Homo sapiens: one gene and its partner. The protein of the gene in region 1 purifies or fractionates together with the protein of each later gene. This does not show direct contact. Each region holds a gene or a part of one and is shown in the gene's direction. Other genes may lie near its edges. The genes, in order: BCL7B and SS18L1.

Region 1 (3,812 bases):
CACACCATCTCGAAAATAAGCAAACAAACAAAAAAAACCAAACACATAAGTATGCCCACTGATTTCCTTATTGTCTGTGGTGCTTTTGAATTACAGTGGCAGATTGAGTGGTTGCCATAAGGCCAAATGGCCCGTAAAACCTAAAATATTTATCATCTGACCCTTTAAGAAAAAGTTTGCTGATACTTGCTCTTATGCGATTAGTCCCCCACTGTATTGTGTGTATCATATGTATATACATCTTTCTAATTCTGGTGTAGACCTTTGTGCTTCATCTTTGTTGGATGTATTTGGATACCTGTATATTCTTTAAAAATACATAGCATTGTTTCATATGTGTATTTTTGTGTTTAAACAAAACTTAAATATGTGGGCCGGGCGTGGTGGCTCACGCCTGTAATCCCAGCACTTTGGGAGGCCGAGACGGGCGGATCACGAGGTCAGGAGATCGAGACCATCCTGGCTAACATGGTGAAACCCCGTCTCTACTAAAAGTACAAAAAATTAGCCGGGCATGGTGGTGGGCGCCTGTAGTCCCAGCTACTCGGGAGGCTGAGGCAGGAGAATGGTGTGAACCCAGGAGGCGGAGCTTGCAGTGAGCCGAGATCGCACCACTGCACTCCAGCCTGGGCGACAGAGTGAGACTCCATCTCAAAAAAACCAAACAAACAAACAAAAAAAAAACAAAAAAAAAATATGTACAGTATTTTGCCAGAACCTCTTTGTATTCTCTGTGGTTCAACTTTGGTTTTTTAATTTGGGGTTTTTTGCTTTTTTGTTTTTTTGAGACGGACTCTCGCTCTGTCGCCAGGCTGGAGTGCAATGGTGCAATTTCAGCTCACTACAACCTCTGCCTCCCAGGTTCAAGCAATTCTCCTGCCTCAGCCTCCTGAGCAGCTGGGATTACAGGCGCCTGCCACCACGCCTGGCTAATTTTTCTATTTTAAGTAGAGACGGGTTTCACCATGTTGGCCAGGTTGGTCCCAAACTCCTGACCTCAAGTAATCCGCCTGCCTTGGCCTCCCAAAGTGCTGGGATGACAGGCATGAACCACCGTGCCTGGCCCAACCTTGTTTTGAGAACCCTCCATGTATCTGTAAATATAAATAGAATTATTACCTTTGACTCATGCATTGCATTTTCTTATTTGCAGTGAGTACCTTTATCTACATATTTTCTGGGTGATAAATACCCAGATTGTTTCCAACTTTATTTTTTCTAATTGTTTTTTAAATTTTCAAATATAAAACACATACAGAGAAGTATATAAAACATAAATGTACAGTGTATGAATAAATATAAAGCTAACACTCTTGTGAGAACCACTCTGCAAAACACAGCTTTGCCAAGACCCCAGCAGACCTCTCTGCAGCTCTTCCCATCCTCTTCCTCCTGTCCCTCTAAAGGTAATGACTCTCCTACTTTTGCTTTTCTTACCACTTGTCTAGTCATTCATAAACAGTTTTTCCTTTATTATTATTTTTGAGATTTTTTTTCCAGAGACAAAATCTCACTATGTCACCGAAGCTGGAGTGCAGTGTCATGATCTCAGCTCACTGGAGCCTTGACCTCCCAGGCTCAAGCAATCCTCCCACCTCAGCCTCCTGAGAAGCTGGGACCACAGGCATATGCCATCATGCCCAGCTAATTTTTTTTCTTTCTTTTTTTTGTTTGTTTTGGAGAGATGGGAGTTTGCTATGTCAACCTAGGCTGATAGGTCTCAAATTCCTGGGATCAAATGATCTTCCCACCTCGGCCTCCCAAAGTGGTGGGATTTTAGGCATGAGCCATCGTACCCACGCTTTTTCCTTTTTTAGAGATGGTGGGGGGTCTCATTGTTGCCCAGGCTGGATTTGAACTTTTGGGCTCAAGGGATCTTATCTCAGCCTCCCAAATAGCTGGGATTACAGGCATGTGCCACTGCACCAGCCTCTAACATTTTGAGTGTTATGGAAACAGCATGATAAAGTATCTATTTTCGTGTGTCTTGTTTCTTTTGCTCAGCATTATGTTTGTAAAATGCATCCATGTTGTCCTTGGAGTTACCCATTCCTTTCCATTGCTCTCTCTGCTGTATTTTGCTGCATATTCATCACATGGCTAAGTGTAGTTTATTTTTCTGGTTCTCCTGTAGATATTGAGGTTGTCCACAGTTAGGGCCAATAGGAACAATGCCCCTGTGAGCATTCTTGTTCAGAATCCACATCAACATGTACATGAGTTTTCCTAGGATATATTCTTGGAAGGGAAGTGGCTGGGTCTTAGGGTATGTATGTTTTGACCTATATTAGCTGATGCTAAACTATTTGCTGAAATGGTAGTTGTACCAATTTATATTCCCACCAGAAACAGGAGTTTTGTTTTTTGGAGTTTTTTTTGTTTGTTTGTTTGTTTTTTTGAGACGGAATTTCGCTTCTCTTGACTAGGCTGGAGTGCAGTGGCGCAATCTCGGCTCACTGCAGCCTCTGCCTCCTGGTTTCAAGCGATTCTCCTGCCTCAGCCTCCCAAGTAGCTGGGATTACAGGCATGCGCCACCACATCTGGCTAATTTTGTATTTTTAGTAGAGACTAGGGTTCTCCATGTTGGTCAGGCTGGTCTTCAACTCCCGATCTCAGGTGATCCGCCCGCCTCGGCTTGCCAAAGTGTTGGGATTACAGGCGTGAGCCACTGTGCCCGGCCTGCTCCTTTTTTTATTATTATTATTATTTTGTAAGACACGGTTTCAATCTGTCGCCCAGGCTGGAATGCAGTGATGTAATCTCGGTTTACTTCTACTTTTGTCTCCTGGGCTCCAGTGATCCTCCCACCTCAGCCTCCTGAGTAGCTGGGACTACAGTCACATGCCACCACATCCAGCTAATTTTTGTTGTTGTTGTTTCCTTATTTTGTTTTGTTTTTTCGAGACAGAGTCTCACTCTGTTGCTCAGTCTGGAGTACAGTGGTGCGATCTAAGCTCACTGCAACCTCTGCCTCCCGGGTTCAAGCAATTCTCCTGCCTCAGCCTCCAGAGTAGTTGGGATTACAGGCACACACCACCAGGCCCGGCTAATTTCTGTATTTTTAGTAGAGACAGGGTTTTACCATGTTGGCCAGGATGGTCTTGATCTCCTGAGCTCGTGTTCTGCCCACCTCCGCCTTCCGAAGTGCTGGGATTACAGGCGTGAGCCACTGCGCCCAGGCTCGCCTAAAATTTCATGCACCTACATTTTTTTTTTTGAGACAGGGTGTCACTCTGAGGCTGGAGTGCAGTGACGTAATCTTGGCTCACTGCAGCCTCCGCCTCCTGGGTGCAAGCAGTTCTGGTGCCTAGCCTCCCAGTAGCTGAAACTACAGGTGCATGCTGCCACACCCAGCCTAATTTTTGTATTTTTTGGTAGAGACGGGGTTTCATGATGTTGGCCAGGCTGGTGTTGAACTCCTGACCTCAAGTGATTTGCCCATCTAGGCCTCCCAAAGTGCTGGGGTAACAGGTGTGAACCACTGTGCTCAGCCTCATGCACCGACTTCTTACTGTTTTCTCCTACATTTGTTTTTCTTTTTGCTAGAATACATCCTTCAAGAGTTTTGTCAAAGAGAGCTTCTGTGGGGAAAACTTTCTGAAAATATCTTTGTTTCACTTTCATGTTGAAAATTGATGATTTTACCTGTATATGAAATTCTAGGTTCAAAATTATTTTCTTTCAGCACTTTGAAGCTATTACTGAATTGTACATCCAGTGTCGCTGTTAAGAAATGTGATGTTATTCCCATGCTTGAGTCTTTGTAGGTGATCTACTTGGCTTCCTGGAAACTTTAGCATTTCTTCTATATT
Region 2 (3,812 bases), on another chromosome or scaffold:
GGGTGTTCTCCTCGGGTGGGTGAGGCCATTCAGCAAGGCCTTGGCTTCCCCAGTGAGCGAGCAGGTCCTCTGAGGGAGGAGGGCGCGGCCCGCACTGGCGCTGAATGTGGTTCCCCCGCAGGCTCTTCCCAGCAGTACCTGGGCCAGGAGGAGTACTATGGCGAGCAGTACAGCCACAGCCAGGGCGCCGCGGAGCCCATGGGCCAGCAGTACTACCCCGACGGTGAGCACTGGCGGCGGCCTGACCCCGCCCAGGAACGCAGAGCAGCTGCAGGGGCAAGGAGGGCAAGGAGGGCAAGGAGGGTGTGGCCACTGCAGTGTGTCCTCAGTCATTCCAGCTCAGGCCTGGGCTACAGGCAGAGTGGCCAGACGCCCTGCAGGAGCAAGGTAGGGGATGGGGTGAGCTGGGCTGGCAGTGGTGCCTGGCCTCTGCAGAGAGAAGCTGTGGCACACACCGCTGCACTGGCCTCCACGCGGCCTTGCCTCTACTTCCTGAAAGGCTGTGGGAGTTGGAGGCGGATAATTGTAGCTCCTAGCTGTAGATAGGTGGAAATGTTCAAGAAGGCGCCTCCCAGCTTCACAGAGAATGCCCTGAAGGTGACGGCTCCACCTGCAGCACCTCTCCTCCTGCACCTTCTCATCTCTGCAGAGTATTTTACCGTCGTCACCTTTCAGTCTTTGCATAGTCCCAGGGCTTGTGGAAGGGATACTGAAAGTGGTCTTGGCTGAAAACAGCGGTTCACACCTGTCATTCCGGCACTTTGGGAGGCTGAGGCAGGAGGATCGCTTCAGCCCAGGAGGTTGAAGCTGCATTGAGCCATGATCGCACCACCACACTCCAGCCTTGGTGACAGAGCAGGATCCTGTCTCTAAATAAAGTAAAAATAACAATAAAATAAAGTGGTCTTAAAGGCTGGATTGATCCCTGGGAGGCATCCAGGCAGGGAGCTGGCCTCAGCCAGCAAGGGGCAGGTGCACAGACAGGTGGGCAGGTGGCAGCAGGGCAAGCCACCCTGGCCACGTGATGGTCACATGCAGCGAAGGCCTCGGTAAGGGTTGGACACCCCTGCCTGCGTCCTCCCAGGAGCTAGCGGTGGCGGGGAGAAGGCAGTCGGGTCACTAGCATGGCTGTGTGGCAGGCACTGAAAGCGCTGATCCTCTGCATAAATCCCCAGGTAGCTTCACAGTCGCCCCGAGAAGGAGGCATTGATGTCTGCATTTCAGTGGGGAGGCCGAGGCTCAGGAGGTTGGGGCATGGTTTTGGGGAACACGGGTCCTGCCGGCTCTTGTTGCCTCCCTGGCCAGACAACATCTCCCCAGCCTGGGTCTCAGTTGCCTCCTCCGGGACCTGTGCAGTGCACAGCCTCCGCTGACTGTCGCCGTCTCCGTTTCGCACAGGCCATGGCGATTACGCCTACCAGCAGTCATCCTACACGGAGCAGAGCTACGACCGGTCCTTCGAGGAGTCCACGCAGCACTACTATGAGGGGGGTAAGGAGCACGGCTGCGTGCTGGGCTCGAGCGTAAGCGCCACACGCAGCAGAGTTAAGACGCTGCACCCTTAGGAGCACGCGGTGCCTGCCTTCAGTGAGTCCCTTAAATCACAGCACAGCGCGTGGGAGGAGAGACAGTGTGTTCTGGAAGCTGGAAATTCAGGCTGTGTCGGGAGCCCCGCTTGCCTTATGGGTGTGTTCGTGAGACAGGAAAGGATTCAGCCGGCCATGCTGGGGTTGGGGGCACAGACTTGGTTATTGGGTCCAGCCAGGGAGCGTGGGGCCTGCGACAGGAAGGATTCAGCCGGCCATGCTGGGGTTGGGGACACAGACTCTGTTATTGGGTCTGGCCAGGGATCGTGGGGCCTGCGAGCCACTCTCAGAGCTTCCTCAGCTGGAGGCCAGCAGTGGCTGCGCTGGGTGTGGCCTCGCGTTTCTTCAGACACCTGCAGGCCAGGAAACGCACATCTGTGGCTGGGGGCTTGCCGCCCTTCATGGCGGTCCTGGGCAGTGCTGCGCTGGGGGCTGCGTGTCGGGTGGACTTGCCCCTTTCTGTGGTGTCTGTGCCCCCACCCTGGCTGCCCTGAAACCCCAACAGAACATCCCAGAATGTGGAGTTGGGAAGAGGTACACACAGCCCGTTCCAGTCCCACCCCGGGATAAAGATGGCCCCCAGAGAAGAGCTGATGATCGCCTGCGGGATTGCGCAACCTCGTCCGGGAGGGAAGGCGGGCCTGCAGTCCCTGGGGAGAGGGGCCTCGTGTCTGCTGACGCTGACCGGCAGGCAGCAGTGGCTGAGGCCTTCCCACTGCAGGGCTGCAATTTATCAAGAGGTAACAGTGTTGGTGAGGCTTCACCAGGTACACAAAGCAGGCAGGCACTAAACGGCTACAGATTTCCTTGTTTGGGTTACTTCTTAAAGAATTGGATGTGTAAAGGTTTTGCTTCTGAGCTTACACATCTCAGCCTGCTGTGAAGAAATAAAGCACGCAAGTGTAGGCACATATAGAAACATCACGGTGTGCGCTACGAATGCCTGCAACGTTGAAATGTCAGTTACACCTTTGTAAACCTGGGGGAAACAAAAAGTACATGAATACATAATGAAAGTTTAAAAGAAGAAAGAGCCTAGGTGTTGTGGCTCACGCCTATAATCCCAGCACTTTAGGAAGCTGAGGTGGGTGGATCACCTGAGGTCAGGAGTTTGAGACCAGCCTGGCCAACACGGTGAAACCCCGTCTCTACTAAAAATACAAAAATTAGTTGGACGTGGTGGCATGTGCCTGTAATCTGAGCTACTCAAGAGGCTGAGGCAGGAGAATTGCTTGAACCCGGGAGGTGTAGGTTGCAGTGAGCTGAGATCATGCCATTGCACTCCAGCCTGGGCAACAAGAGTGAAACTTTGTCTCAAAAAAAATAAAAAGAAATAAAAAAAAGAAATGGCCAGGCATGGTGGCTTACGCCTGTAATCCCAGCACTTTGGGAGGCCAGTGGAGGAGGATTGCTTGAGCTCAGGAGTTTGTTTGTTTTTTTTTTTTTTTTTTTTTGAGACGGAGTCTCACTCTGTCGCCGAGGCTGGAGTGCAGTGGTATGATCTTGGCTCACTGCCACCTCCGCCTCCCAGGTTCAAGCAATTCTCCTGCCTCAGCCTCTTGAGTAGCTCGGATTACAGGCCCCGCCACCACACCCAGCTAATTTTTGTATTTTCAGTAGAGATGGGGTTTCATCATGTTGGTCAGTCTGGTCTCGAACCCCTGACCTCATGATCCACCTGCCTCAGCCTCCCAAAGTGCTGGGATTACAGGCGTGAGCCACCGCGCCCGGCCGAGCTCAGGAGTTTGAGGCCAGCATGGGCAACATGGCAAAACCCTTTCTCTCCCGAAAAAAAAAAAAAAAATGCCGGGCGTGGTGGCGGGTACCTGTAATCCCAGCTACTCAGGAGGCTGAGGTGGGAGAATCGCTTGAACCCAGAGGCAGAGGTTGCAGTGAGTTGAGATTGCACTACAGCACTCCAGCCTGGGTGACCGAGCCAGACCCTGTCTCAAAACAAAAGCCACCCTGTGGCCAGCACCCAGAGGCTATCTTCTGGCATATTGGCTGCAGTGGTGCCTCCGTAAGCCCTGGGAGTCAGCAGGATCTCTGCCATCATGGGCCTGGCCCTGTCCCTTCCAGCTGGAGCACAGGGTTCAGCCTTGTCCATGGCGAGGTGTCCACATGCGTCTGCCCAAGGCTGCCACACTTTGTCCCAAAAACAAACGCAGGATGTGCTGCTCAGCCTTTTAGTGTCTGATGTAGCTACTTTTTTTTTTTTTTTAAAGA

The links.
Region 2: the proteins of BCL7B (region 1) and SS18L1 purify together in Homo sapiens (affinity purification with mass spectrometry, with the first as the bait; one large-scale study listed by BioGRID). This does not show direct contact.

Annotation. Positions count from the first base shown.
Region 1 is NC_000007.14:73,547,517-73,551,328, reverse strand, and holds part of BCL7B (B-cell CLL/lymphoma 7 protein family member B), read left to right. Parts: intron 1-3,812. UniProt on the Homo sapiens protein: Positive regulator of apoptosis. Plays a role in the Wnt signaling pathway, negatively regulating the expression of Wnt signaling components CTNNB1 and HMGA1.
Region 2 is NC_000020.11:62,164,024-62,167,835, forward strand, and holds part of SS18L1 (calcium-responsive transactivator), read left to right. Parts: intron 1-121; coding exon 122-223; intron 224-1,398; coding exon 1,399-1,491; intron 1,492-3,812. UniProt on the Homo sapiens protein: Transcriptional activator which is required for calcium-dependent dendritic growth and branching in cortical neurons. Recruits CREB-binding protein (CREBBP) to nuclear bodies.